4 separate regions of the Homo sapiens genome follow, and all the other regions are reported to be linked to region 2. Evidence: microRNA targets listed by miRTarBase, many of them from high-throughput screens and not tested one by one. Region 2 holds a microRNA gene; each other region holds the end of a gene's coding sequence.
The links. The annotated mature microRNA hsa-miR-504-3p reads GGGAGUGCAGGGCAGGGUUUC and lies in region 2 at 3,882-3,902, shown strand. An mRNA with a match to its seed (bases 2 to 7 or 8) in the 3' UTR can be bound and repressed. Matches are read on the target gene's strand: a 7mer-m8 pairs with bases 2 to 8, a 7mer-A1 pairs with bases 2 to 7 and ends in A, and an 8mer does both.

Region 1 (7,791 bases), not on the chromosome of region 2:
AAAACAGGTTTTATTTTCATAAGCCTTCTGTACTGTCAGCTATGGCAAATGCATACAGTCAACTCAGTAACAGGTGCTGAGTCCCCTTTGTGTCCTGGAGCACTAAGCTGACCCCAGAGGACATCTGAGGAAAGAGGTCAGTGATGCCTCCCAGGGTCTGAGGTCTGTGTGAGGGCAGGAGTGACGAATGTCCAACTCTAGGTGTCTGGGAAGGAGGCCCAGGTGGGCAAAGGCTGGCAAAGGAGAGGGTGGCTTTTGAGCTGGGCAGAGTAGAAAACGTTTCCAGGAGGAGGAGGAAACTGAAAAATATAAGAAAAGAATTCGTTGAAGGTATTGCCATACTTCATACAAATTAGCATTTGCTTAATTGGGAGTAGAAAACCATGAATTATTTTAACATTAAGTCTCATTGAAACTAAGCTTTTTTTAACCCCTTAAAAGTTATTTTGCTGTAATCCCAGCACTTTGGGAGGCCAAGATGGGCACATCACCTGAGATTAGGAGTTCGAAACCAGGCTGGCCAACATGGCGAAACCCCGTCTCTACTAAAAATACAAAAATTAGCTGGGTGTGGTGGCAGGTGCCTGTAATCCCAGCTACTCAGGAGGCTGAGGCAGGAGAATCACTTGAACCCAGAAGGCAGAGGTTGCAGTGAGCCAAGATCGTACCGACTGCACTCCAGCCTGAGTAATAGAGTGAGACTCTGCCTCAAAAAAAAAAAAAAAAAAGTTATTTTGTACTTTCGTGTATGTGTAAGTGTCCATAGTTGACCAAATCCTAGAGTTGGAAAAGGTTCTAAAAAGAACTTAATTTTTCATTGTCTCTCTAGGTTATGTGACTTTCCTGTCCAAATACAGCTGAGGTGGGAAATAGACACAGTTGTAACCTTGACAATTTTATTTTATTTATTTATTTTTTGAGACAGAGTCTTGCTTGCTCCGTGGCCCAGGCTGGAGTGTAGTGGCACGATCCCGACTCATTGCGACCTTCACCTCCCAGGTTCAAGCGATCCTCATTCCTCAGCCACTCTAGTAGTAGGCGTGCACCACCTTGCCTGGCTAATTTTTGTTTTTCAGTAGAGACGGGGTTTCACCATGTTGGCCAGGCTGGTCTCCAACTCCTGGCCTCAAGTGATCCACCCGCCTCGGCCTCCCAAAGTTCTGGGATTACAGGTGTGAGCCACCGCACCCGGCCTAACCTTGACAGTTTTAAAGTTGTGTGCTGTGGATTCGTTCCCCATTTAATATGTGGCGTAAAGTAGGTCTTTCTCTCTCTGCAGAAGTCATAAGGACGAGGCTCCGGGAAGAGGGCACCAAGTACAAGTCTTTTGTCCAGACGGCGCGCCTGGTGTTCCGGGAAGAAGGCTACCTTGCCTTTTATAGAGGACTGTTTGCCCAGCTTATCCGGCAGATCCCAAATACTGCCATTGTGTTGTCTACTTATGAGTTAATTGTGTACCTGTTAGAAGACCGTACTCAGTAACAGGCCGGAAAATTGTGCTCTAGAAGAATAAAACTGAAAAACTCTAGAGAATTTTTTTTCCCCATTGATGTTTAGAAAGTTTGAGACTGAAACAGGAAAGGCCATAAAATATCTGGTTCATATCACCTGTTGGACATTTCCTTTTGGATTCATGCTTTCTGGAAGGTTTAAATTCATTAACGTTAATAGTTAATTATAACTTTTTTTTTAACTTAAGAGGATTCAGGGTTAAGCACCAACTAAATTAAATCATGCTATTTAATTTAAGTATACATTTGGCTTGTGTCCTCTTTTATGCTCACTATACTATGAAGGACTTAAGTAATTCAGATAAACCTGCCCTAGAACTGCAGAGAAAAATGATAAAGTGAGAATACAACTTGTTTTATAATCTGACTTTAAGATCTTGCACTGCTAGACAGGGAAGAAGTGTCGCATTTTGGCTGGGCACTGTGGCTCACGCCCGTAATCCCAGCACTTTGGGAGGCCGAGGCAGATGGATCACGTGAAGTCAGGAGTTCCAGACCAGCCTGGCCAACATGGCGAAACCCTGTCTCTACTAAAAATACAAAAATTAGCCGGACGTGTGCCTGTAATCCCAGCTACTTGGGAGGCTGAGGCAGGAGAATCACTTGAAACCCAGGGGGCAGAGGTTGCAGCGAGCTGAGATCACGTCACTTCACTCCAGCCTGGTCGACAGAGTGAGACTCCATCTCAAAAAAAAAAAAATTGTGTCACATTTTGGTGGTGGTGTGTGGACCAGGACAAACTTCCCAGCAATTTTTCTTCTTTGTACATTTCCAATTACTTGCAGATTGATCATCTAAGCGTTCAGACTGCTGAGATGAATATATATAACTTTCTGAGACTCAATATTTTAAGCTATAAAAAACTTCCTGAAGTTATCCTTTTCTCCCTACTTTGAACCAAAGGCAAGAATTTTTAAAGAACTGTTTTATCAATGGCCTGGCTCCTGGATATAGTTCCGGAAGTTAAGACCAGTTGCCTTGTTAAGTGTGTTGACAGCACAGCTACCCTGTTTGGCTGTGAATCCAGAATGTGATGAAGAACAGTCATTCCCACTGAGGTCTTTAGCCCTGTTCTTGGACCTCTGCTCTTGCAGAAAAGGAGCACAACGTAGGACTATGGCTCACCCGTCAGAGAGCTCACATTCTGATAGAAAGCACTGGGATTGTTTAAATATCCTAGTTCAACATTAAAAAAAAAAAAAATTTAATCCCAGCACTTTGGGAGGCCAAGGCGGGCAGATCACGAGGTCAGGAGATCGAGACCATCCTGGCTAACACGGTGAAACCCCGTCTCTACTAAAAAAATACAAAAAAATTGGCCATGCGTGGTGGCGGGCACCCATAGTCCCAGCTACTCGGGAGGCTGAGGCAGGAGAATGGCGTGAACCTGGGAGGCGGAGCTTGCAGTGAGCTGAGATGGCGCCACTGCACTCCAGCCTGGGCCACAGAGTGCGACTCCATCTCAAAAAAAAAAAAAAAACCAGGATGTTACCCCCTTGGTTTTAAAGCAAATTTAATAAGGGAACAAAAAGATGATACTAAGAAGAAGGCAAGTAAAACCCCTAGTCTTCCATTAGCTCTTTCACTGGAATTTGAGTATATTGTACATGAAGGTTGGTTTTCAATTTGAACGTCTAGAAAGATACTCATTTCTAATACCTATGCACTGTAGTTTCAGGTTTACTTGCAGACACCCTGGTAGGGTTAAGAGGAGGATATTTCCAAGTTATTTTAAATTGAGTTTACTTTTAACTGGGGTTCTTGACTCTAGTGTAATTGCTCCAACAACTACGTAGAAGTCAAAATGAGTGACTTTAGTGAAGCTTCTGTACTTTACAATACATGACAGTAATGCTATTCCAGAAGTTTTGTTTTGTTTTGTTTTGAGATGGAGTCTCGCTCTGTCTCTCCCAGGCTGGAGTGCAGTGGCACAATCTCGGCTCACTACAGCCTCCACCTCCCGGTTTCAAGCAATTCTCCTGTCTTAGCCTCCTGAGTAGCTGGGACTACAGGCATGCGCCACCACACCTGGCTAATTTTGTATTTTTAGTAGAGATGGGGTTTCACCATGTTGGCCAGGCTGGTCTCAAACTCTTGACCTCAGGTGATCTACCCGCCTCGGCCTCCCAAAGTACTGGGATTACAGGAGGGAGCCACCATACCTGGCCCGCGCCGCCCCTTCCTTTGTTGTTATTGTTGTTTTGAGACAAGGTATCACTCGATCACTGAAGCTGGATACAGTGGCAAGATCATAGCTCACTGTAACCTCAAACTCCTGGGCACAAGGGATCCTCGCATCTCAGCCTCCCAAGTAGCTTGGACCACAGGAAAGTACCACCATGCCCAGCTAATGTTTTTTCATTTTTTGTGCAGACGAGGTTTTGCTATGTTGTCCAGGCTGGTCTCAGACTACTGGCCAGAAGCGATCTTACCTCCTCAGCCTCCCAAAGCACTGGAATTACAGAGTAACATCTAATTTTAATATTCACATTCCTATTTTAATATTCATATTCGATGATGGCACTTAGCAACATCCTCCTATATCCATATTAAAACCTGTTTTCCAAGATTGTGTCTAATATGAAGGTGTAAAATTGCTTTGTTTTCACTCCTTCTTGAATGAATAAATTTGATAGTAACCAATTATAATTTTAGTTTTCTGCTTCTCCTGCCCCAGGGCATGGAAATGCAAGCTGCTTAGGCACCCAAAGTAGGAAAGAAGTGATGGTTCCTCTGTAAAGGGCTCATTAGCTTTAAAAATGGGAAATACCTGTGGTTTTTCTCTTAATTTTTGTGGGTATATAGGAGGTATATATATTTATGGGGTACATGAGATGTTTTGATACAGGCGTGCAACGTGAAATAAGCACATCATGAAGAATGGGGTATCCATCCCTTCAAGCGTGTATCCATTGAGTTGCAAACAATCCAGTTACACTCTTGTTATTCTGAAATGCACAGTTAATGTTGGGGTTGGGTGGTTCACGCTTGTAATCCCAGCACTTTGGGAGGGTGAGGCAGGTGGAGGATCACTTGCGCTCAGGAGTTCGAGACCAGCCTGGCAACATGGTGAAACCCTGTCTTTATTTAAAAAAAAAAAAAAAAGCTGGGTGCGGTGGTGTGCACTTGTGGTCTCAGCTACTCCAGAGGCTGAGGCAGGAGAATGAAGGACTTGAGCCCAGGAGGCGGAGGTTGCCGTGAGCTGAGATGGCACCATTGCAGTCCAGCTTGGGTGACAGGAGTGACCCTGTCTCAAAAGTACGATTAAATTATTATTGACTGTAGTCATCCTGTTGTGCTTTTTTCTTTCTCTTTTTTTAATATAAAGATTTTTTAAATTAAAACAATTTTTTTTTGAGACGGAGTCTCGCTCTGTGGCCCAGGCTGAAGTGCAATGGCATGATCTCGGCTCACTGCAACCTCCACCTCCTGGGTTCAAGCGATTCTCCTGCCTCAGCCTCCCAAGTATCTGGAATTACAGGTGCCCGCCACCACGCCTGGCTAATTTTTGTATTTTTAGTAGAGACAGGGTTTCACCATATTGGCCAGGCTGGTCTCAAACTCCTGATCTCAAGTTATCTGCCTGCCTTGGCCTCCCAAAGTGCTGGGATTACAGGCATTAGCCACCTTGCGGTAGCTCACACCTGTAATCCCAGCACTTTGGGAGGCTGAGGAAGGAGAATTGCTTGAGGCCAGGAGTTCAAGGCCAGCCTGGGCAACATAGGGAGACCTTCTCTTTACAAAAAAATTAGCTGAGCATGCACCTGTAGTCCCAGCTACTTGGGAGGCTGAGGTGGGAGGATCCCTTGAGGCCAGGAGGTTGAGGCTGCAGTGAGCCATGGGATTGTGCCACTCTACTCCAATCTGGACGACAGAGCAAGAGGGGCATCTGAGCCTGTGGAATGGTCTGACTTCAAAGTCAAGATCTGACAAACCATTTCATTCCTTTTACTTAAGAATTACAGATCCATGGATGATACTGCTGATAAAGGTGTGCTTAAACTAATGCACGTAATAGAATTGGCCACATAAAGAGTCCTTTGGGTGGGACATGCAAACTGAATCTTCCTTGGGAAGCAAATGGCACTTAAACACAATGCCTGCCTGCTGTTTTGAGGGAAGATACACCTTAAATGATTATTTTGTTTGCTCATGGCTGGTGAAAGCATCAAGACTGCATGGAAAGGCTTTTGCTGGGATACTCACAAGAAAGAGGAGGTCCAGACCCAAGTGAACCTCCAGGTTTCCTGTCTGCTTCACTTTCCAGTCCCCCTTCCCCCCAGTGAATGTGCATGATTCCGGTGTGGACAGAGGAACTGGCTGCAGGAGCAAAAAAACATTTGCCCTCAATCCATCACTACCCACAAAGAGTTTACAATGTTAACCTCAAAAAAAAAAAAGTGATCAGAACACTGGAACATAGTGTGTAATTAGATACAAATATTTTCTGTTTACTTTTTTAAAACTAGTAATTTAGCTGAAATCAATAATGAAACACAGTGACTCTTCCCCTTGAATCTCCTCCCACCACCAGGTAATCAGTTTGCAGTTCAGTGTTAACTATTCTCCACTTCCCACAAGCACATAAGGCTTTATTTAAGCTTTGGATATTATTTAAAAATCAATCTGCATGTTGCTTTTTCTTTTTCTTTTTCTTTTTTTTTTTTTTTTTGAGATGGAGTCTCACTCTGTTGCCAGGCTGGAGTGCAGTGACGCAACCTCAGCTCGCTGCAACCTCCGCCTCCTGGGTTCAAGCAATTCTCCTGCCTTAGCCTCCCATGTAGCTGGGACTACAGGCGCCCACCACCACACCCAGCTAATTTTTGTATTTTTAGTGGAGACCAGGTTTCACCATGTTGGTCAGGATGGTCTCCAGCTCCTGACCTTGTGATCCGCCTGCCTCGGCCTCCCAAAATGCTGGAATTACAGGCGTGAGCCACCATGTGCCCGGCCTGCATGTTGCTTTTTTGTTGTCGTTTTTGTTTTTTCAGAAGGAGTCTCCTGTCACCAGGCTGGAATGCAGCGGCACAATCTTGACTCGTTGCAACCTCCGCCTCCCAGGTTCAAGCGATTCTTGTGCCTCAGCTTCCCGAGTAGCTGGGATTACAGGTGTGCACCACCACGCCCGGCTAATTTTTGTATTTTCAGTAGAGATGGGGTTTCACCATGTTGCCCAGGCTGGTCTTGAACTTCTGACCTCAGGTGATCCGCCCGCCTCGGCCTCCCAAAGTGCTGGAATTACAGGTGTGAGCCACCGCGCCCTGCCTGCATGTTGCTTTTTAAAAACAATGTATCATCCATCTATGCCAATAACTCCAGATCTGGCTTTCTTTTCTTTTCTTCCTTTCTTTCTTTCCTTCTTTCCTTCCTTCTTTCCTTTCTTCCTTCCTTCCTTCTTTCTCTCTCTCTCTCTTTCCTTGCCTTTCCTTTCTTTTTTGAGAAGGAGTCTCGCTTTTGTCGCCCAGGCTGGAGTGCAGTGGCGCGATCTCGGCTCACTGCAAGCTTCGCCTCCCGGGTTCACGCCATTCTCCTGCCTCAGCCTCCCGAGTAGCTGGGACTACAGGCGCCCGCCACCACGCCCGGCTAATTTTTTGTATTTTTAGTAGAGAGGGGGTTTCACCGTGTTAGCCAGGATGGTCTCGATCTCCTGACCTCGTGATCCGCCCGCCTCGGCCTCTCAAAGTGCTGGGATTACAGGCGTGAGCCACCGCGCCCTGCCTGGATCTGGCATTCTTTCTAATGGTTGCATTATGTTCCGAACTATGGCTGTCCTATGATTTATTCAACCATGTCCCTATCCGTGGATGATCGTGTTTCTAAAAAGCTAGTTTTTCAACCATTAGAGCGGCTCAAGGAGCTGCTAAACAGCACTGGGCGCATAGGCTGGGTTTGACTAGACAGGATTAGCGAGGGGGAAAAAGACTAATTACAAGCAGTTGCGTACTCTGGAGATGCTCCCCTTAGCAGAAGCTCGGTGGACTGTCTGCAGCCAGACCTCCGGGCCTGGCGGCTGGCGCGGGAGGCAGAAGGCGGGGCTTTCCTACAGGGCTCCGTGCCCCGCCCTCCCCGCGCCGCCTTCCACCTCCGGCCGCGCGGGGGCGCTCCCCGGCCGGCTCTGTCGCTTCCGCCGCCGCCCCGCCCACCCGGGCTCACCCCTCGTCCCGATTGGCTGCGCGACGGGAGCGCGCCGAGTCAGGGGGCGGGCCCGCGCCCGCTACAAAGCGGCGAAGGTCACGGCGCGAGGAGGCGCGCGTCGCCGCCCCGCGTCCCGCCTGCGGCC
Region 2 (7,791 bases):
TTGTCTTCCTCTACTAGAATGTCAGCTCCTTGAGGGCAGGGTCTTTATTTTGCTTAGTGATCTTTCCCGAGTACCTGGAACAGAGTCTGGAATATACTAGGTACTCAATAAATGTTGCCTACAATATTTAATTAATTGATTAGTTAGTTCAGACATTGAAAGAGCTTCCAAGAGTAATGTTTAAACTCAATCAATGTAATGGATAAATATCCAAGTACTGTATGAGGAAAAGATATTGATAAACGTTGCCTGTATTTATAAGATTCATAATTTTACTCAACTCTTTGATGAGGAAATGTTGACTTGTCCAAAAGCAGGTAAATATAAATAGAAAAACCGGAGGTTTTTCTTGATAAGAGTATCCCTCTATATGAAGCAGAGACGTAATTCAGCCTAATTTATATTGAACTCCTATAGTCCAACTATTGATTCCTTATCACTTGCTGACATTTGTTGCTAGGGAGCATTGTGAGTATTTGAAATATACATTTATTTCCACTAAGAGTTATGTAATCAATTTTAATATATTTTAAATATACTTTATGATGATGTAGATTAATAATGGAAATGATGATGGCGGTGGTGGTGGTGGCGATGGTGATGGTCATGTGTGTTTGTCATAGCTAAAGAACAGCATTGAAACTTTTCCAGTGCACACAACACACACAAAATCCACTTATAACTAAAAATTAATTATGAAGTAGGTCAGTCTTATAAAGGATTTTTAAGGAAACATAATTACATGAATTTTCTAGATTAACTCAAACTATGCTAACTCTTGTCCTCAGATGACTTGAATTAATGAAATGATATATAATTAGTGTTTCAGTTGTTTACATGTAAATATAAGTTGAGTATTCCAGAAAAGTTTGTTCGTAGGCACTTTTTCATCTCTAGTTTTTATTTTATACTGAAACAAAAAGAAATAAAACATCACCCCAAACTCACTACACAGATATTTCAGTGTCTATCACCTGTATGCCTCCCTGTGTATATATACACATATATCTACTTGATTGTATGTAAATGAGATAACTTTATATGACCTGTTCTGTAACTTGCTTTTTTACGCACATCTTGTGCATGTATTTCTATGTCAATAAATGTACATCCACATTATTGTTTTAAAAGATGAATAACATTCTGTTGTATGTATGTACCATAATCTGCTCATCCAGTCCTCTGCTGATGCATTTTTTTCTTTGTTGCTGTTACAAAATAATGTTATGGTAAACATTCTTATGCATGCATCATCTTTATAATTTGACTTGCAAGTATTTTTAAAGTTTCTTTCTCAGTGTCATTATTTTGTTCTATACGTATAAAGGGATCTCTAAACAAAATCAAGTTTCTTCCCTATTCTGTTTTTAAATTATTGTAAATTTCAAAGTAGCGAAATTGGAATAAATGAGATTTTACTGTGTACTTTGCCTGGAGCCCTCTCTTGAAGTGTATTCAAAGGGAATTAAAGGGCTTATTAACGGATAGGACTATTTGTGTTAAAGATGAAGTCTGTTGAACATTTTCACCTAAATATACCAATCTGATATTCTTGACGTTTTTTTGTTAAATTTGATGCTGACAATAAAAACTTTGGAATAAGCTATAATTTCTGCATCCATGCATATTCAGGTCTGAAAATGAAAGAAGAGTGTGACAGGTTTGCATGTAGAACTTCCCACCCACTCATTTCTTTCCTTTCTGCTTCTGACACTTCAGCCTTTGAAACAGTTTCCCATGAGCAATACTGAGATTCAGACTATTTAGATCTAAAGGAAAAAATGCAAGCTCTTCTACAGCTTGTATCTAGCACCTGGAAACGTCTTAGAAGAAGTGCTAAAATGTAAATAATGCTGTTATTTGTTATGCACATAGGAGAAATCCTAAAGGTATTTTAGGGAAGAGATGGAATCCAGAGATATTAAGAACAAGGTGTGGGGGCCAGGGGAGAAGGGGAGAGGCAGAAGGATCCTATCCACATTATTAAAGTGAAATATTTCCAGTATACTCTTATCAACTGACATGTAGACTGCATGCCGCTTTCATGCAAAGGTATCACATTTCAAACTTAGCATTTAAAAGAAGCCAGACAAGAAAGGAAAAGAGACAGTTATTTGTTGAAAAAAGTCTGGGTTTAGCATCAGGCACAGGGGTTATTGGTAGTTGTCTGAAGTACACTGGAGCCTTGTAACATTGTTTTGTGCCATGTATTGCCAGCCTGATACCACTGGAGTACATCCTCTGTCTAGTTTTCCAGAACTCACTACAATAACTGTAGGATTTTTCCATCCTTTATGAAATTGCATCAGTATTGTGAAGGGCCTTAAAAGCCATTCAGTTCAACAACCATCTCCCAAAAGAAAAGTTCCTCTTCTTTTTCCATTTATTTTATCTCTTCCCAAAGCCATGGGGACCTAGATACATCAATTATCCTTTGTCCTGTACCTTCACTACCTCCTGGACTACTACCTTTTTTCCACTGGCATACAGATCATTTCAAGACTTCTCATCCTAAAAAGTCCCTCCTAAGTTTCTCTTTCAGACTGTCTCTTTCCTTTGATAGGCAAGAGCTTTCTTCATTTTCTCGCCTATTTTTAAATTATTCAGCTTCACCTTTGCTTTTATTTTCTCATCTAATTCTTAATTATTCAGCCCTCCGCATTCTATCTTCTGCCCACATTGCCATCCATGAACTCCTCCTGCTAATGTCGCTAGTGACTGCCAACTAAAATCCATTTCTCCCTTCAGTCCTTACCTTATTTCTCCTTTCTACAGCACTTGACCAGGTTGGTCAACTTTTTCATTGAAACCATCTCTTCTGTGGGCTTTCACAACACTGCTTTTTCTCTGTTCTACACCATCACTATTTTTCTTTTAATTTTTACACTTCCCTCGTCTTTTCTGAAATGTTTGATGTCCTCCCCACCCCCAGTTTCCAGCCTCAGTAGTTGTCTTGTATTCTGCTTGTGTTCTCTAGATTATTAAATGTATTCTTGTGGTTTCAGTTACCATCCATATGCAGACACCTTTCATCTTGAGAGCCAGGCTTATATATACAAATGGCTGCTGCACATTAACCTATCACTAATGGCTCTTTAAACTCAAAATAACCAACAATGGAGTCATTGTCTCTATCTCTGAAATAGAACACACTACCCTCCCCCACTTCTTCCCCTTTTTACCCTGTGGCAACAACCTTTTGCTATCCTGATTTTAAGCAGGCTGCAGCATCATAATAAATGATACATAATATCTGCCTTTAAAATGCCTGTAGTGGTTAAGAGGGAGGGCTCTGACATTACATGGATTTGAAACACAATTCAAATGCTTATAAGGTTTATGATTTGGGGCAAAGGAATTATTAATCCATCTGTCCTTTAGTTTCCTCATCTATAAAATGGAGGTAATAGTAGTATAGACCTCATAGGGTTCTTAAGAGGATTAAATGGAATGATAATACATGCACAGCATTTTACAGTGTTAAGTTCATTAAGTTAACAAATGCTTCATATTATTTGCCGTTACAGTCCATATAATAACATGCTGCCTTCAGGCCAATATATATAAGCCTATAATTCTTGGAAGACTATGGAAATCCTATCATATATTAAATTGTCATTTTTTTTAAGACTAAGAAAAATTTATGTAAAGTCCAAAAGTACAGCTGTTTACAGGGGACGAACTGATCCACAAGGCCACAGTCTACCCTCATCAGTTAGTGTCCATCACTGAAGTGGAATAACTCAAAAGGAAAAGGTAACTCAACGAGCCATCCATTTCCCACATAGAATCACAACAGAAGACAGAAAATATGGAGTGGAATGTTGAATCAGCTGCTGTTGGGAGACCCTGGTCTGCACTCTATCTGTATTCTTACTGAAGGGAGTGCAGGGCAGGGTTTCCCATACAGAGGGCACAGACTACCACCGTATGGCAAATGTTGACTGGAACTCAACTTCAAAGCCATTTCACCTGGAATCTTACCCCACCACCCCAATGCTTCATGAAAATTCAACTGATCCTCTTCTATGAAGAAACTCAATCCTGATAAGTCTCTTTAGTAGTTATTGAAATGTCTTTGTAACTCTCTTATAGTCAGGTTCAGTAAGAATGTTAAGTTTCTAATTGAGCTTTTCTTTCTGAACAGTTATTTTGTGTATGTTTATTTTCTGTTTACCAATGTAATATATGTTCTTTGCAGAAAAATTGGAAAATACAAAAAGGTATCTACAAAGTCCCCCAACCAAGAGAAAACCAATATTAATGTTCTGTTATAGATCCTTGTAGTGGCTAGCTGGAATTCGTGTATATCTCTCTCTCTCTGTCTTTGTCTTTCTTTCTCTCTCTCTCTCTATATATATACATATATTCCAAATATACATTTTTATGTAATATATATGTATATTATATATGTATACATATATTCCAAATATACATATATATCTTCATGTAATATATACGTATTTTATATATATGTATAAATACATAATATACATATATAACCTAATATATGATATAGCATAATATATGTATACACATATATGTGTACATATATAAAATACATATATATTACATAAAGATATATATGTACATTTGGAATAACTATGCATACCATGTTTCAAACCTGCTGTTTACTCGTTATTATGACTATTCCTCTATATATTAAAATATTATTCTTAATCTACATTTTAGTGGTTGAATAGTAATAATCTATTTAGTTTGTTCTCTGTTTATTTGTTTTTGTTTTTGGGAACAAGGAACTGTTCACACCTAAATGTGTACAACCTTTATGTCTAGATCAGGCACTTGAATTCTTAAAAAAGTGTTAGGAAATGGAATAATGATCTTTTATTTATAAGTTGTATATGTTTCTGTATTCTGTTCATATATGATAATTGAAATAGACCTATATCTAACACTTTAAAATTTATAGTATTTTCATCTTTATTTCCTCATTTGATCCCTGCTACACCTTGTGAGATAGAGAAGGGCTTATTATTCTGTCCTTATAGATAAGGAAACTTATGTCCAGAAAGATGAAGTGGTTTTCCAAAAGACACGTAGCTAATAAATAATTGACAACATTGGAATTTGGAATTAGAAAGCAAGTCTTGTGACTCCTAACCAATACTCTTTCCAGTACACTTTGCCATGTCCCAACTTCACTTTCTTTAAGTGCTTCTTTCTAGCACCTCTTATTCAATTATTGTCATACGTACTTTTTGGATCATACCTTAGGAGAATGTAGCTTTCTCATGAATTTCCTCATTAGCTGACAACTGAATATGGCTAGATTTTAACAATAAAAACACATTTTTTTCTTTTCAGGAATGCAAATACACAGTGTATTATATGTAGAAAAAACTCTCAGATATTGGATCCTTATTGATGAGGCTTATGAGATAATATAGCAACTCAGACTTTTCTCAGGAAGAAGAAAATCCATGTCTTTTGTTGGACAGTTTAGAGAGTCTAGACTACCATCATTCAGCATTTGAACATTTTGATTTCAAAATGTAGACAATTGAAGAAATACAATGTAAATGCCAGGGAATTAAATCATAGGACAAAAACTCCCTATGAAAACATCTTAGTGATAGCATACATGTTAAAATTTTTGAAAACACTGGGAATGGTTTCACTTCTCATCTGAGTATCTGAGAAACAGATGATTATGTACCTCCCAGCCCTGTGTCAGCCCTAATTTAGTTGATGGCATTATTGCTCCCTGCTTTCTTTTTTTTCTCTTTATAGCAGATTGCTATTCTTTTTTACTTTAAAATAGCACCTTTTGCTGCCCTGTCTTATCCTTGTGCTCTTTTAAAAAGTGGTCAGGCACACACTTTTGTCACTAGTTTTACATGAGGGTAGGGGCTTTCTCTTTTCTTTTCAAAAATTAAGTGCCACTACATCTCAGTTAAACTGCCTTCATCTGACAAGCACTTACAGAATACTGAAATATAATCTACTGCAAAAAATCTACATGTTTTTCATAAATACGAATGAAATGCTTTTAATATTATCCCTGTGTTCAGAGTTAATGCTTAGGCATTAACTAAAGTACGCTAGACGCTTTTGATATATTTCCAAAGGCCCAGCCAGAAAGATATATTGCAGATACACATATTCTAAGTGTTTACAAAATCTTCCAAAATTATTTTGCCTGTGTCTGCTTAAAAGGCACAGGAAACAGCTCCCCTACTATCTCCTCTATCCAGTCAGGAACACTTGCAGTAAGGACACTGGTTGTTCAGTGCACAAGGATTAAAGTAACTTAATTACACAGTCAAATCAATAATAAATTGAGATCATTAGAGCCTTGGCTCGAGCTGAACCCCAGGTAGCCGTGGAATCCCTATGATACTTGAAGAAGAATTGACACAGATTCTAAGGCCTCACAGGTTCAAGGAGAAGCAGACAGCCTCACTTTGTTCCTTCAAATTAGTTTTGAGTGGAGGAATCTTAGGTTTAAGTGAGACCTGGATCTTGTTTTGGGGTGATCTCTGGAAACTGGGATATAATCTACTCTCCAGGGTAGAAGACTATGAAGGGACTAAAGGAGCAAACTCTAGGTCACTGAGAACCCCTTTCCTACAAACAAAGATCTTGGTTGTGTTCCCTCACTTCCAGAGAGCTCATTGGACCGAGCATACCCTTGAGTATTAAGGTCAGTGCATACTGAGTTTAAAAACAACATAGGTATAAAATTGAATGGAGCAGTGGTGAGGAAGGTGGAAAAGGATGAGAAGGGAACTTCCTTTGGACTTCTTTGAGCCAAAATAAGTAGTATGTTTCCTAAATTCTTGTAATCAGACCATTGTTGGCTATTGGTAGAGGGAGGTTCAGATTTTCCATCTCTATCTTTTTTCTTCTGTTTCTTGGTCCTTCTGCCACTGCTTCTTTTAAAAAGAAATAAACTCATTTTTTTCTCAGCCTTATGTGGGAAACCCTCTTGGCATTTTCTAACTGCCAAGTGTTCTATAACTAGCCATCTGTGGAATATTTTTTTGTTAAGTTAATTTTTTAAATTAATTCATTTCCCTTTTCTCTCTCTCTCTCTCTCTCTCACACATGCAAACTAGTGTTTGAAGATCAATGAGCAAATGATCTTTCTTGTAACAACTTCCCTTTTTCAGCTGATCGCTTTTCTGAATTTTATCTCCTAAAATCACTTAAATAATTTCACTGAAACAAAGGAATGATTGGTCTTTTAAAGACTCGTACATGTATTGAATATAACATTTCCGACCTGACTAATAATTTGAAGTAACTTTGAGCTTTTCGAGGGCCCTAGCCAAAACAAAATGTTAGATGGCCTTTAACATTTATGTCTTCAAGGGACTGTGCTAGCCAAAGTTTCCTCCCAATCTGGAGGCAGCTTTGTGCCATAGCAATTTTCAGGCTTCATTGCATCAATCAAACAAATTGTTCTTGTAGTGCTTACTTACTGGGGAATTCACCAGCTGGAAGATTGTACCATTGAGCCAAAACAGGCCACTGGAACAGCCATACTCTTTACTTCATTTATGGAGCCATTTAAGAAGATGCTGTAGTGGCAGCTGCCTGTTTGTCAGAACAGCCTTGGAGGTGTGCTGAATGAAACCTAATTTAGACTAGTAGATGATCAGATGACAAAGAATACCAGAGATACAGGTGAATCACAAAAGAAGATGCTGTGAGACTTTCTGTAAGGAATTCCCCACCATGACTTTAGAAAAACTAAAGTTTCAGCTGCAGTTATGTTGAGTGAAGTGTAAAGCCTTGAAAACATAGACTAAAATGGTCCCCCTC
Region 3 (7,791 bases), not on the chromosome of region 2:
TGAATCTATGTATCAATTTGGAGGATAACATATTTTACAATATTGAGTTTCACATCATGAATAAGAGATATCTTCCAAATCATTTGGACCTTCTTACATAAAATTTTCTCTATAGAGGCCGGGTGTGGTGGTTCACATCTGTAATCCCAGCACTTCGTGAGGCTAAGGCGGGCGGATCACCTGAGGTCAGGAGTTCAAGACCAGCCTGACCAACGTGGTGAAATCCCATCTCTACTAAAAATACAAAATTAGCTGGGCATGGTGGCACATGCCTGTAATCCCAGCTATTTGGGAGGCTGAGGCAGGAGAATCACTTGAACCTGGGAGGCGAGGGTTGCAGTGAGCCAAGATCACACCATTGCACTCCAGCCTGGGTGACAGAGCAAGACTCTGTCTCAAAAAACACACACACACACACACACACACACACACACACACACACACAAATTTTCTCTGTAGAGATCTTGCATAACTTTATTGACAGATACTTGATTTTTATGCTTGTAGAAGTAAACCTTTTAAAAATTTCGTTTTCTACCCATTTTTTATTGGTATGTAGAAATAAAATTGATATTTGTATGTTGATTTTTCAGCCAGCTGTATTGATAAACTCTCTCATTACGGCCGGGTGCAGTGGCTTACACCTGTAATCCCAGCACTTTTGGAGGCCGAGGCAGGCCGATCACGAGGCCAGGAGATCAAGACCATCCTGGCCAGCATGGTGAAACCCTGTCTCTACTAAAAGTACAAAAATTACCTGGGTGTGGTGGTGTGCACCTGTAGTCCCAGCTACTCGGGAGACTGAGGCAGGAGAATGGCTTGAACCTTGGAGGCAGAGGTTGAAGTGAACCAAGATCACACCACTGCACTCCAGCCTGGGTGACAGAGCGAGTCTCGGTCTCAAAAATAAATAAATAAATAACTTATTAATTCAAATAGTATAACTTTTGGATTTTCTACATAACAAATAATATAAAAAGAAAGTTTTATTCCTCCCTTTCCACCTTTCTTTCATTCCTTTTCTTGTTTTAGTACATAGCTAAAGACCTAGAGTAAAATGCTGAATCGTAATAGAATAGCAGACATCCTTATCTAAAAATCTCAGAAGAATTCTAACTTAGTTTCAGTTTTCCCAGAAGCAGACCCGGAGACAAGGATCTGTGTACAGGAATTTACTGGGAGGTGAAGGAAAACATTGGTTGGGGAGTGGGAAAGGGAGACAAGGAAGGGAAGGTGGCCAATAGAGGCATGTGTTATCAGGCTTATCTCTGGAGCAGAATTCTGCTGGGGGGACTCTGGGAGCCAGTGTAAACTACATGCCTCAGAGTTCTCTCACCCCAGATGGGAGGGAGCTGTGGTATTCAGACACAGAGTCTTGCCAGTTATTGTTTAGAGCTGCTGTGGGATGGAGCTTGAATTCCCCAGCACTTCCAACTGCCATGGGAGTGGAAAACTGTAGTCAAGCAGCAAAGAAAGCCCTCAGGCAAGAAGTGCAGATGCTGGCAGCTGAAAACGGTAGTGTGTACACTGAAATGGTAAAAGTGACGGATACAGGTAAGTTGCCAACAGTGTCTTCTACAAACCCCTTCAACATTTTACTGCATTAACAAGTAACATTTGCAGTCCCCATAGGATAACGGCAGCTGCATAAGTCCAGCCTTTCTAGACACGCTCCTAAAATCATTTTGTCAATGAAGAGAGAAAGAAGGGGAAGAATACACATAATTGCTGAGCATGGTGGCTCACACCTGTAATACCAGGCCAAGGTGGGGGGAATTGGTTGAGTCCAGGAGTTCAAGACCAGTCTGGGCAACATAGTGAGACCGTGTCTCTACTAAAAATTAAAAAAAATTAGCTGGGTGTGGGGGCGCATGCCTGTAGTCCCAGCTGCTCAGGGGGACTGAGGCAGGAGGATCACTTGAGCCTGGGAAGTTGAGGCCGCAGTGAGCCAAGATTGCATCACTGCACTCCAGCCTGGGCAACAGACCAAGACACTGTCTCAAAACAAACAAACAACACACACACACACACACACACACACACAATCCATGCTTACAGCATAATTAGGAGACAGAAAACACCACAAACTATGATGGTAAAATGTTGCCACCTGGCCACTGTTACTCTGAAGTCCTACTATCACCATTAACATCAGGGAGCTCAGTTCTCTGGTAGCATTCCCTACTGTGAACCCTGGCCTACAAAGGACAGCCACCACTCAGTCAAAGTCTAGTAACTGTCATACTACAGCATGCAGGGTTTACCACCACCACACTTAGCATTAACAAACAAATAAGAATCCTGGTACTTAGAAAATACACAGAATAGACTAAGTTAAGGAAAAAGGAGAATGGACAAATACAAGAGAAAGAAGGAGGAGGAGGAGGAAAAAAAAAGGAGAAAGAGGAAGAGAAGATAAAAGGGGCTGGGCGTGGTGGCTCACGCCTATAATCCCAGCACTTTGGGAGGCTGAGGTGGGCAGATCACCTGAGGTCAGGAGTTTGAGACCAGCCTGGCAAACATGATGAAACCCCGCCTCTACTAAAATACAAAAAAAAAAAGCTGGGCGTGGTGACACGCACCTGTAATCCCCACTACTCAGGAGGCTGAGGCAGGAGAATGGCTTGAACCCAGGAGGCAGAAGTTGCAGTGAGCCGAGATGGCGTCACTGCACTCCAGCCTGGGTGACAGAATGAGAGTCTGTCTCAGAAGAAAAAAGGAAAAGAAGAAAAGAAAATTCTAAAAAAGGTAAACTAATCTATAGTGACAGAAAGCAGATCAATGGTTGCTTGGACGTCAGGAGTGGAGAGAGAGATTGATTGCAAAGGGGTACAAGAGGATGATGGAAAGGTTCTGTATCTTGATTGTGGTGGTGGTTTCCCAGGTGTATATGGTATATCTGTCAAAATTCATAGAATTTTACACTTTAAGTGTATAATTTATTATATGGAAATAATACCCCAATTTTTTTTTTTTTTGAGATGGAGTTTCGCTTTTGTTGCCCAGGCTGCAGTGCAATGGCACAATCTTGTCTCACCACAACCTCTGCCTCCCGGGTTCAAGTGATTCTTCTGCCTCAGCCTCCCGAGTAGCTGGGATTACAGGCATGTGCCACCATGCCCGGCTAATTTTGTATTTTTAGTAGAGACAGGGTTCCTCCATGTTGGTCAGGCTGGTCTCAAACTCCGAACCTCAGGTGACACGCCCACCCCGGCCTCCCAAAGTGCTGGGATTACAGGCATGAGCCACTGCACCCAGCCTTCATGTATAACTTTTAACTCCCTGTAAACTTAATTACTGTTGACCAGAAGCTTTACTGATGACATAAACAGATTACCACATATGAAGTATATTCTATGTATTACACACTGTATTCTTACAATAAAATAAGCTAGAGAAAAGAAAATGTTATGCCTGTAATCCCAGTACTTTGGGATGCTGAGGCAGGAGGAATGCTTAGGCCAGGAGTTTAAGACCATCCTGGGAAATGTAGTGAGACCCTGTCTCTTTAAAAAATTAAAAAATTAGCTGGGTATGGTGGTGGGCACCTGTAGTCCCAGCTATTCAGGAGGCTGAGTGGGAGGATCGCTTGAACCTGGGAGGTGAAGGTTGCACTAAGCCAAGATCTTGCTACTGCACTCTAGCCTGGGCAACAGAGCAAGACACTGTCTGAAAAAAAAAAAAAAGGTGGGGGGGGGAGAGAATGTATTTACTATTCATTAAGTGGAAGTGGATCATCATAAAGTCTTCATCTTTGTCGTCTTCATGTTGAGTAGGCCAAGGAGGAGGAAGAGAAGGGTTGGTTGGGGCAACAGTGGGAGAAGAGGCGGAGGAGGTAGAATAGGGGGTAGCAGGGGTGGGGGTTCAGGAGAGCCAGGCATACTTGGTATAACTTTTTTTTTTTTCCAAGACGGAGTCTTGCTCTGTTGCCCAGGCTGGAGTGCAGTGGTGCGATCTCCGCTCACTGCAACCCCCGCCTCCCAGGTTCAAGCAGTTCTGTTGCCTCAGCCTCCCAAGTAGCTGGGATTACAGGCGCCCACCACCACAACCTGCTAAATTTTGTATTTTTAGTAGAGATGGGGTTTCACCATGTTGGCCAGGCTGGTCTCGAATTCCTGACCTCATGATCCGCCCACCTCAGCCTCCCAAAGTGCTGGGATTACAGGTGTGAGCCACCGCACCTGGCCGGTATAACTTTTATTGGGACAAATCCACATGTAAGTGGATGAATTTGAACTGCACAGGTCCATTTATATGTGGATTTTCTTCCACCTCTGGGGTAACATTTCTATCACCCTCTTAAAAGTTTTCTTGCACCCTTTTGCAACCAAACTCTCTCTCAATCCTTGACATTCAAGCAACCACTGGTCTGCTGTCACTATAGTTCAGCTGGCATTTTCTAGAATTTATCCCATGGGAAAAACCAAGGCAAATGTACAATGATATATGTACATTTATCTCAATGTTATTTAGAGTTGTCAACTGGAGAAAAACTTAAATGACCATTATTAACAGACTGAATAAATAATGACCATCTATACAATAAAATACTGTACGCCAATTGTAAGAGTAAATACAGTGTGAGGGTAAAATTTTTTACATAAGTAATACATGGTACATTCTGTTATACAAAAGGAAACCATTACAAAAAGGCTAAGGCCCTTTTGTCACTCCCAACCCAGAAGATCACTGTAAAAGTTTCAGGTGCATTTTTCCAGGCTTTTTCTATACATGTATACATCTACGTGCATATTTATATACACATAAAAATATATAATAATTTTTTTTTTGAGACGGAGTCTGGCTCTGTCGCCCAGGCTGGAGTGCAGTGGCTCAATCTTGGCTCACTGCAGCCTCTGCCTCCCTGGCTCAAGCTATTCTCCTGCCTCAGCCTCCCGAGTAGCTGGGATTACAGGCACCCACCACCACGCATGGCTAATTTTTTTTGTATTTTTAGTAGAGAGGTTTTCACCATGTTGGCCAGGCTGGTTTTGAACTCCTGACCTCAAGTGATCTGCCCACCTCGGCCTCCCAAAGTGCTGGGATTACAGGCATAAGCCACCGTGCCTGGCCATATAATGTTTTGAAGGTACTCCTTGTCCTGTGTCCAGTTCTGCAACCTGCCTTTTCTACTCAACAATGTCTTTGTAATCTCTTCATGTTAGTACACACACTATACAATTTATCTTTTTCTCAATAGCTACCTATAATGGACATTTCATAGTGTATTTGGGCTTGCCTTTACTGAGAAATCTTTAGATGAATTCTAACTTTTTGCCATTGCTAAATTAAATTTATATGTATTGATATAGAAATATCTCTATATTATATTAAGTTTTTTAGAAAGCTGAAGTGGAATATTTATATGGAAATAAACTTTTATATAGGTATCAAAAAGATTGGAAGGACACCAGTTTGCACAATTATTTTAGTGGAAGGAAGGAGGTTGGTTTATAAGCAGGCTTTGACTTTTTCTTTTTCTTTTTTTTTTTTTGAGAGAGTTTCACCCTTGTTGCCCAGGCTAGAGTGCAATGGCAGGATCTTGGCTCACCACAACCTCCGCCTCCTGGGTTCAAGCGATTCTCCTGCCTCAGCCTCCGGAGTGGCTGAGATTACAGGCATGTGCCACCACGCCCGGCTAATTTTGTATTTTTAGCAGGGACAGGGTTTCTCCATGTTGGTCAGGCTGGTCTTGAACTCCCGACCTCAGGTGATCCGCCCACCTCAGCCTCCTAAAGTGCTGGGACTACAGGCATGACCCATCACGCCTGGCCTTTTTTCTCTGAGACAGAGCCTTGCTCTGTTGCCCAGGCTGGAGTGTGGTGGCTCCATCTCAGCTCACTGCAACCTACGCCTCCTTGGTTCAAGCTATTCTCCTGCCTCAGTCTCCTGAATAGCTGAGATTACAGGTGTGTGCCACCATGCCTGGCTAATTTTTTTGTATTTTTTTTTAAGTAGAGATGGGTTTCACCATGTTGGCAAGGCTGGTCTTGAACTCTGACCTCAAGTGATCCACCTGCCTTGGCCTCCCAAAATGCTGGGAATACAGATGTGAGCCGCTGCACCCGGCCAGACTTTGACTTTTCCAATTTTTTCAATGATAATCTTTTTTCCTGATAATATGTTCACAATCAAGTAATACCAGGGACTGCTGAGAAGTGGATGATGAAGGGTGATAAGGTATAGACTGTGCCCTTCTCTTTGCAGCTCCTGAGAGGGGATGGGAAGGGATTTTGGGAGGGTGAGAAACAGCTTTGTCTGCCCAGAGCAGCTCTGAAGGTGGCCCAGTGCAGAACAGGATCTCTGAAGGCAGAGCGGGACACCCATTCTGGGGATGGAAAGAGGGAAGACCGTTGAGGCCATTTCCCAGGTGGAGGACTAGGGGTGGGAGAAGTGACCTTCTGCTTGAGGATCCAGTCCACCCTTCACCCACTTCAGACATGGACTTGAGACAGAGAAGAGATTTAAAACCAGATTTAAAACCATCAGCTCCCAGGAGTGTGGCCTCCTCCACCTGCTCCCCAACTTTTCTGGTTCCAAAGGTTCAAGCCAGGCTCAACTCCCACTCCTCTAGTCTCCAAATAAGCGTAGCACGGAGAGTCTGAGTGACAATCCACTTTAATAATCCAGCTTCAGCTCAGCTGAGAACTTCCCCTCTCAGGTGCAAAGGGATGGCAGAGAAGTCTTTCCAAGAGGGCTCAATCCACTAAGAGATTATGGCTTAGAGAAGGGAACAGCTCAAAGAAGCCCTATAATGGGAGGCAACATGGAGTTTGGAATTAGTGAGTGACCAGATGGAGATGTCCTGCCACCCACCTCCCACCAACATATGTTCCAGCAAGAGAAGCACCGAGGTTTCATCTGTTCTTGACAGCCACCCCAGTCTTCTCAGCCCTGATCCCCTCTTCCCATCCCCTCATTTTCCATTTCTTTGGGTCAGGGCCCCTGAGCCTTGAGAAGAATAAGGACCGTTGTTTTATCTCTTTTTTCTCTTTTGTAGAGACATGGACTTGCCATGTTGCTCAGGCTGGTCTCAAACTCCTGGCCTCAAGCAATCCTCCCACCTCCCCAAGTGTTGTCATTATAGCATGAGCCACTGTGGTTGGCCAGGACCCTTGTTTTCCTACATGGCCCCAGCATGACAACCAGCCCCCATTACTCAGGCCAGTCACTTTGTGATGGCGATGTTGTCCCAGCAACCAATCCAGGCACTAGAGGGGAAGCAGCCCAGCTGCCAGAGAGGGTCTGGGGTGGGTGTTACCTTGAAGAGGGTGAGGGTCTGGAGGACTCCTGTGGTGCAGGCCATCTCCCGGATAGAGTGCATGGCCAGTTGGGGGCTGCCTAAATCCAGCACCCGCAGCCCCAGCCGAGAAGCCAAGATAGGTCCAATGGTGGTTCCACAGGGGGTGTCATTCCGGACCATGAGATCCTAGGGAGAGCAGGAGACCCATGAGCAACATGCAGTGTGTGCTTATCAGAGCCAAGGAGGACGCCATCTTAGAATTGCAGGGTGGGAAGGGGCCTGGGAGATGGTCCATTCGGAGCATAAAATCAAAGCCAATGCTAAATGGCAGACCCCAAAGGACAATATATTCTGAATTGGTCCCATTCTATCTGCATTGCCACCACCCTAGTTCCAATCCATTCTCCACACAGCAGGAAGGGGGATTTTTAAAAGTATCCATCCTTGTCACCCTCTTGCTTAATATCCACACTCACAGAAAAAAATCACTCAGTGGTATCAGTGTCTTTAAAAATATTGCTACTGACATTTTGAAATGATTTTCTTTA
Region 4 (7,791 bases), not on the chromosome of region 2:
CCAAAGTGCTAAGATTACAGGCATCATGAGCCACCGTGCCTGGCCTATGCAGGGCTTTTTTAAAGAGGAGGAGGATCAGCCGGGCGCAGTGGCTCACACCTGTAATCCCAGCACTTCCCTGGGAGGCCAAGGCAGGCGGATCATCTGAGGTCAGGAGTTCGAGACCAGCCTGGCCAACATGGTGAAACCCCGTCTCTATCAAAAATACAAAAATTAGCCAGGCGTGGTGGCGGGTGTCTGTGGTCCCAGCTACTTGGGAGGCTGAGGCAGGAGAATCGCTTGAACCTAAGAGGTGGAGGTTGCAGTGAGCTGAGATTGCACCACTGCACTCCAGAGCAAGTCTCCATCTCAAAAAAAGAAAAAGAAAAAGAAAAAAAGGACGAGAAGGATCTCTGTGAAATGATAGATATATACCTGCTTATTGTTGTGGAAGGAAGGTAAAAAGAAAAGGAGGAAGGGAGAAGACAGGCAAGGAGGAGAAAACAGAGACTAAGGGTGGGAACAGATGGAGGAATGGGAATGGGAATATACCTTTTTGTAGAGTTTTGACTTTTGACCTAGGTGAAGTATTTACATAGTCAAAAAAAGAAAATAAAAATGATGGAAACAAACCTTTAATTGAATACAAACAGAATCAAGTCAACCTCATGCATATCAAATTCATAACATGGTTTCCAAGAGAAAATAATTCAAGTAACTTTTATTTCTTTTTTTTTTTTTTTGAAACAGGGTCTCACTCTGTCACTTCGTGTGCTGGAGTGCAGTGGCGTGGTCTTGGCTCACTGCAACCTCCGCCTCCCAGGTCCTGGTTCAAGCAATTCTCCTGCCTCAGCCTCCCTAGTAGCTGGGATTACAGGCATGTACCACCATGCCCGGCTAATTTTTGTATTTTTAGTAGAGACAGGGTTTCGCTATGTTGGCCAGGCTGGTCTTGAACTCCTGGCCTCAAGTGATCCGCCTGCCTCGGCCTCCCAGAGTGCTGGGATTACAGGCGTGAGCCACCGTGCCCAGCCTCAAGTAACTTTTGAATCCAGCACCCTGTGCACCCTTAGGGAATATACCCAAAGGTGGGGAAAGGGGCTGAAGGGAAATCCCAAACCTTACTTGGTGGGTTTGTTGTTGGCAGTGACATCAGTTTAAGAATTCGGAAACTACTGTTTCAGAATTTGGACATTGCGGTACAGAAGAAATCCGTAAGTGTATTGAAATTGTTGGGAATCAGGATGGTTTGAAAAAAGGAAAAATAGGGACTAATGTACAGATGAGGCCTGTGGTGCTGAATTGAAGCTGGAGGTTTCAGTATACTTGCAGGCTCTTCTAAAACATCTTAGCTCTGTTCACTGCAAGGGCCTAGAAGCAGGACACCCAGCAAAACCGGCACACCAAGTCCCTGGACCTTCATTGGGAAATAAAAATTCTCCACCACAAGAGACCAGGATCTGAATAAATGACTGATTCCACAGTTGGGGCAAGGAAAGTAAAAGGTCAGTCTGGAGCGCCTTGTGCCAGAAAGCAAGAATGTGCCCAAAGGCCGGGCACGGTGGCTCACGCCTGTAATCCCAGCACTTTGGGAGGCCGAGGTGGGCAGATCACCTGAGGTCAGGAGTTCAAGACCAGCCTGGCCAACATGGTGAAACCCCGTCTCTACTAAAAATATAAAAATTAGCCAGGCGTGGTGGCTTATGCCTGTAGTTCCAGCTACTCAGGAGGCTGAGGCACGAGAATCGCTTGAACCTGGGAGGTGGAGGTTGTAGTGAGCTGAGATCACGCCACTGCACTCCAGCCTGGGCAACAGAGTGAGACTCTGTCTCAAAAAAGTAAAAGAAAATAAAATGCTCAAAGAACCATGGGAATATGGCAAAAAGACACAAGAGCTGTCTTCTCCCTCTGAACAGTTTGAGCATCAAAAAAAATTATAACAGTAAGCGATTACAACACATTGAATTAAAAAAAAAAATCCATGGGCCTCCAGGAACACTCAAAAACTGAGTTGGAGGGAGGGAAAGACTTTCTTTACAGAAGAATGCCAGCCAGTAAACATCAAAGAAATATATGTTTTTTTTTTTTTTGAGATGGAGTCTCGCTCTGTCGCCCAGGCTGGAGTGCAGTGGCACGATCTCCGCTCACTGCAAGCTCCTCCCGGGTTCACGCCATTCTCCTGCCTCAGCCTCCTGAGTAGCTGGGACTACAGGCGCCCGCCACCACGCCCAGCTAATTTTTTGTATTTTTAGTAGAGACGGGGGTTTCACCGTACTAGCCAGGATGGTCTCGATCCCCTGACCTCGTGATTCGTCTGCCTCGGCCTCCCAAAGTGCTGGGATTACAGGCGTGAGCCACCGCGCCCGGCCAGAAATACAATTTTTTGAGACAGAGTTTCACTCTTGTTGCCCAGGCTGGAGTGCAATGGCTCAATCTCGGCTCACTGCAACCTCAACCAAATTGAGGTAAAACACTCAATTTGGACATCCACAGACTCCCCAAAGTCCTGGGCTATGAACCCTAATGTAGAAGAAGGAGCATAGAGCTTAGGTCACAGCACATAGGAGCAACAAGCCGAGGAGAGGAGGCTCTAATGAACAGAGGAGGGAAAGCAACAGCCAGAGAGGAGGGCAAGCCAGGAAGAGCCTCGGCAGCACAAATGCCACTCAGTCTGCAAACCAGATAAGGACGCTTGCACTGGGAGTGATTAAAACTCAGATCCCCGGCCGGGCGCAGTGGCTCATGCCTGTAATCCCAGCACTTTGGGAGGCCAAGGCAGGCGGATCACTTGAGGTCAGGAGTTCGAGACCAGCCTGACCAACATGGTGAAACCCCGTCTGTACTAAAAATACAAAAATTAGCCTGGCATGGTGGCGGGCGCCTGTACATCCAGCTACACAGGAGGCTGAGGCACGAGAATCGCTTGAACCTGGGAGGTGGAGGTTGCAGTGAGCCAAGATTGTGCCACTGCACTCCAGCCTGGGTGACAGAGTGAGACTCCGTCTCAAAAAAAACAAAAACAAACAAAAAATCAGAACCCTAAAGATCGATTTTATATCCACCTACGTGACAGTAAGAAAGCTGGATCAACTTCAGGAATGAAGGTGGACAGTCAAGACCTACGGTAACACTGTCTGGTGTCTCTCTGGTGCCACCACCCACATCACCTGCCTCTGGTTCAGGGCCCCTTCCCAGCTTGTCATCCCACCTACCTGGACCTTGTCCCTCCAGTGAAGGCTGCCCGGATGCCTCAGAGAGCACAGCCTTCTTAGCTTCATTCTTCCGGAGTGCTTTTCCTTATTTGGTGCTTTCTAGGGAGTAGGCAGGTCAGGTCTTAGGGATTTTTCTTTCTTTCTTTCTTTCTTTTTTGAGACAGGGTCTCACTCTATCTCCAGGCAGTGGCACAACCATCGCTCACTGATGCCTTGACCTCCCAGGCTCAAGCCATCCTCCCGCCTTGGCCTTCCAAGTAATGGGGACTACAAGCATGTGTCACTACACCTGGCTAATTTTAAAACTTTCTGTAGAGACAGAGTCTCACTCTGTTGCCCAGGCTGGTCTCAAACTCCAGAGCTCAAATATTTGTCCTGTCTCGGCCTCCCAAAGTGCTAGGACTACAGGCATGAGCCACCGCGCCCAGCCTAGGAATTTTTAAGGTGTTCTTTCAAAAGACTATGAGGGCTGTTTGGTATCAAAGCAAGTCCAAGAACCAAGAGATAAGAGATCAAAAGCTCTAAAAGCAAACCCAATCCAAGCTTTAAAAGTGAGAGAGATAAGATGGCTCAGAAATAATCATACTGGGTCCATTTATCAGGTGGTTGGGAGAGCACAGCTAACAGAGGGAGAAAAAATAAATCAAGTGGGCCACGTCCACAGGCGTAATCAACTCATCAGAATGAGTTGGTCACCTGTCACCAGCTAGAAAAACCCAAGCCAGAGTTGGTTCTGCTGGACTGGTAAGATGTCCCACCCCAAACTGACCAACTGAATCAGCATTTCTAGTCTTCTGTGCAATTGCCTGCAGTCGTATAGACCCGGTCATGATGGCAGAGAATAAAATCTTCTCTCACACCGGTCTCCAGTTACAGAGTTCTGATCACTGCAACCGGGAAAGCTGAGAACTCTTCATCATCTAGCACATTTGCGAAATTCATTGGCTTTAACAAACTGTTCCCCAAACACCTGGCCTGTGCGGTCTCCTCTCACCAGCATGTGCTCTGTCATATTCAGAAAGTGCTTATAGGCTCTCGCTTGCCTTGAAAAATATCCATCAGCTATCAGAAAAGCTAAAACCCATCGTGGCTCTGGTGAAACGTTCACTTCAGGGAAACACACAAGCCAATTTGGTCCGACTTAATAAGTTTAACAAAATCCAGGTGAAGGAATCTATCTGGAAAAACAGAAGACTCTTATGAGCAGCTCCAAGAAATAATTCTCTCGGGAAAGGGGAAAAAAGATGTGAATTCCTCCATACCAGGGTAGAAAGCAAGATGAAATTGGGTCTCACAAATGGGGAACATTCACGTAACCCCGACCTAAAACGGTGGTTTCCAAATATCTTAGGATTGTGAGACCTTCCTGGATTTTCTTCTCATGCTTTGTCTTAGAGGTAAAATCATGTTTGAAACTCACAAACTGTCTTATGATCTCTCACCCCCCACCCCCAACAAAGACCACAGACAAGAACATCATGGAACCAACTTTAAAAACTCGAGTCTGTCTCATTCTGAATGTGAGACATGAGGGACACCATTCCTAAAGTTTAAAAGAAATTGTTCTGCATTCTGGCAGGATCTGCTCTGTTTCATGCGCAGAGCGTACGGCCATGTCTGCAACTCGGGAGAGCTCCATTTAACGTGTGCGAGGACTCAGTAACATATAGCCATGCTTTTTACAGAGCCCTTGTGTTCCCAGATTGGCTTCAGGTTTGAAACCCTAACCTTCAGTTATGTGTCCTGTTAATAATAGGTCTCACCTCCCCAAGCGTACAAGAGACGAGAGAGCTAGCAAGGGAATGGTTTCCAGAGTGGGAGAATCCGAGAGAGAGGGCAAGACTGCAGCCTGGACCAACCAATCCATGGAGAATACTGCTCACCCACCTGCAGGCTCTGCCATGTTCCTCCTGACACCCCCAGGGATCTCCTGCCCACCCCCCAATATACCACCCAAGGGACACGTGGGACCCCACAAAGGCACACAGGCACTGGTGTTGAGAGCCGGCTGCATGAGGTGAAGACACAGATCCGCTCCTTAAAGGGAAGGTTTAGAAGTGCATGGCTAAAATCCAACCCAATTATACAATGATTCTTGGCTGAGAATAAGCTAATGGCTGGAGCTCTATAGAATCTCAAGATTTTTCTATGAAAGTCCTACCACCAAACAGCTGTGAAAATAAACCAACGTTCCTTGATGGGCTTCCTCCAAGTGCGGGACCACCCCAAACCCTGCTGTCTTGGGCCACTGTTTATCACAAACACTGCGGTCTACATCCAGAGGACGGATCTCAAGGGGAACTTTCTGTTGACGCTCCTTCCACAACATGGAGATGGGAGACAGGCACACTCAGAGATGATCAGAGATGACAGCAAATGCCATCTTCAGCTTTCCAGGCCAGTGATTTAAGTGCAGGAACAGGGGTGGAATGTAGTGGATATTCACTTGGAAGGTGTGCAAAGTCTCTTATTCACAGAACTCCCATCTCCTAAACAGAAATGACAAACCCCAAGCAAAATTCAACACATCTTTTTTATGTATAAATGGGTCAGTGGTACAGAGGGAGTTACTTTTTATAAATATCTGCAGCAAATCCCCTAAAAAAGATGTGAATAAAAACTCTCTCTCAGCACAAAGGGCCTATTCCTTCCCCAAAAGTGTTAAATTCCCGAGAGCCTGTGCTTAGCCAAACACTTGTGGGGCCTCCTGGGAAGAACAGGAGGACTTTGGGACCGAGAGGAGAGCCTTCCCATCTCCCCGGAGAGCGGAGGTGACTTGAAGGTCATCTGTTGCCCAGGACTTGGGAGTGATTAAACTGTTTCTTCCCAAGACTTGAGGTCTTCTTTGTCAAGCTGCTGATTAAGCGGTCTCTCTGTTTCCTGGCAGTGGCCCAGAGGGAGGGAGGAGAGGAACCTACAATCGCGTGAGGAAGTAAAAAACTCTGGGTATTTTGATAAAAAAAAACACTTGGTAATCACTGTAACCCTGTAAAGCCGATGTATCGAATTCACCAGAGGGAAAATTGTAGATTAGCATTCTGGAAGCTATAAACACAAGCATTTCTTTAGGAAGATCATTACTTAGCACCAATGTCTCTCTCTCTCTCATAATTTTTCCTTTTCCTCCAAGCCCTTGGCTGTGATCAGTGCTGTCGGACCACAGCTCAGCAGTACTTTTAATCAGTAACACAGCTGGGCTCGAAGGGGAGTGCCGTCACATGCCACAGAACAAACAGCGCGCTCACACCAAACGGCAAGGCTCCTGGGGGCATCCTGGCTGGGGAATCGCAAGCGGACCCCCGGCCTCTTCCTGGGGCTGCTCTTTGGCAATCCAGGCTCAGGGGCTTTACTCGAAGCGACGCAGGTGGTTGTACAGCGACTGGACGTAGGTGAAGACACACATGGGGTCCGGCTTGCGGCCCATCACCATCATGTCCTCCACTTCGATGAGGCGCTCACAGTTGGCCAGATTCCTGAAACACACAAGCCCCGTCAGAACGGTGGTCCCAGCCATCAGCCAGCCCCACAGCCGCGACAGGGCCGGTGTCTCGGTCCCGGGAACAGAGCTCAGCCGGCAGCCAGAGGTTCCCAAGGACCCACCAGCGGGGAATTCAGATAACCCTGGCAGAACCCTTGGAGTCACTGACTCCAATACAATGTTTCCCAAACTCCCAGATTTATGAGCCACCTGTACAATTCATGTTTTCATTTAAACAGACTTACTTTATTTAATTTGGGTTTTTTTTTTAGAGACAGGGGCTTGCTCTGTTGCCCAGGCATGAGTACAGAGGCACGATCCTAGCTTATTGCAGCCTCGATCTCCTAGGCCCAAGTGATCCTCACGCCTTGTCTTCCCAAGTAGCTGTGATTCCAGGCACACACCACCATGCCCAGCTAGTTGTTTGTTTTTTTGTTTTGTTTTTGAGACAGAGTTTTGCTCTTGTTGCCCAGGCTGGAGCGCAGTGGCACAATCTTGGCTCACTGCAACCTCTGCCTCCCGGGTTCGAGTGATTCTCCTGTCTCAGCCTCCCGAGTAGCTGGGATTACAGGTGTCTGCCACCACGCCTGGCTAATTTTTTTTTTGTATTTTTAGTAGAGACAAGGTTTCACCATGTTGGCCAGGCTGGTCTCGATCTCCTGACCTCAGGTGATCCACCTGCCTTGGCCTCCCAAAGTGCTGTGATTACAGGCGTGAGACACCACGCCCGGCCCAGCTAGTTTTTTAAAAATAGTTTTGTAGAGATGGGGTCTCACTATGTTACCCAGACTGGTCTTGAACGCCTGCCTCAAGCGATCTTCCCACCTCAGCCTCCTGAGTAGCTGTGATTACAGGCACAGGCGACCCACAGTACCTGGCATATTGTATTTAAATTTGAAGTGAAACTATATTTAAGTTAAAAAAAAAAAAAGTAGGCTGGATGTGGTGGCTCACACCTGTAATCCCAGCACTTTGGGAGGCCGAGGCAGGCGGGTCACCTGAGGTCAGGAGTTCGAGACCAGCCTGACCAATATGGTGAAACCTTGTCTCTACTAAAAATACAAAAATTAGCCGGGCGTGGTGGCGTGTGCCTGTAGTCCCAGCTACTCGGGAGGCTGAGGC

Region 1: the mRNA of SLC25A33 is a reported target of hsa-miR-504-3p. Seed matches in the 3' UTR shown: 7mer-A1 at 2,163-2,169 and 8mer at 2,939-2,946.
Region 3: miRTarBase lists DNPEP as a target of hsa-miR-504-3p. Seed matches in the 3' UTR shown: 7mer-A1 at 5,814-5,820 and 8mer at 4,820-4,827.
Region 4: miRTarBase lists SMTNL2 as a target of hsa-miR-504-3p. Seed matches in the 3' UTR shown: 7mer-m8 at 6,397-6,403.

What each region holds. Positions count from the first base shown.
Region 1 is chr1:9,581,020-9,588,810 of GRCh38, forward strand. It overlaps SLC25A33 (solute carrier family 25 member 33), which reads left to right. Exons shown (of 7, transcript NM_032315.3): 7 at 1,280-4,154. The coding sequence ends at 1,482. Among named protein-coding and RNA genes, the nearest start is that of TMEM201, 4.0 kb to the right of the region's middle. RefSeq lists a silencer at 7,488-7,791.
Region 2 is chrX:138,663,835-138,671,625 of GRCh38, reverse strand. It overlaps MIR504 (microRNA 504), which reads left to right and starts at 3,833; the gene lies at 3,833-3,915. The region is part of intron 3 of FGF13 (fibroblast growth factor 13); the gene reads left to right.
Region 3 is chr2:219,367,594-219,375,384 of GRCh38, forward strand. DNPEP (aspartyl aminopeptidase) reads right to left here. Exons shown (of 15, transcript NM_012100.4): 14 at 7,262-7,429; 15 at 4,450-6,749. The coding sequence ends at 6,699. It overlaps LOC105373883 (a long non-coding RNA gene), which reads right to left and starts at 2,459. Exons shown (of 2, transcript XR_923917.3): 1 at 758-2,459.
Region 4 is chr17:4,606,234-4,614,024 of GRCh38, reverse strand. SMTNL2 (smoothelin like 2) reads right to left here. Exons shown (of 8, transcript NM_001114974.2): 8 at 5,706-6,664. The coding sequence ends at 6,538. It overlaps LINC01996 (long intergenic non-protein coding RNA 1996), which reads right to left and starts at 3,576. Exons shown (of 2, transcript NR_145431.1): 1 at 3,192-3,576.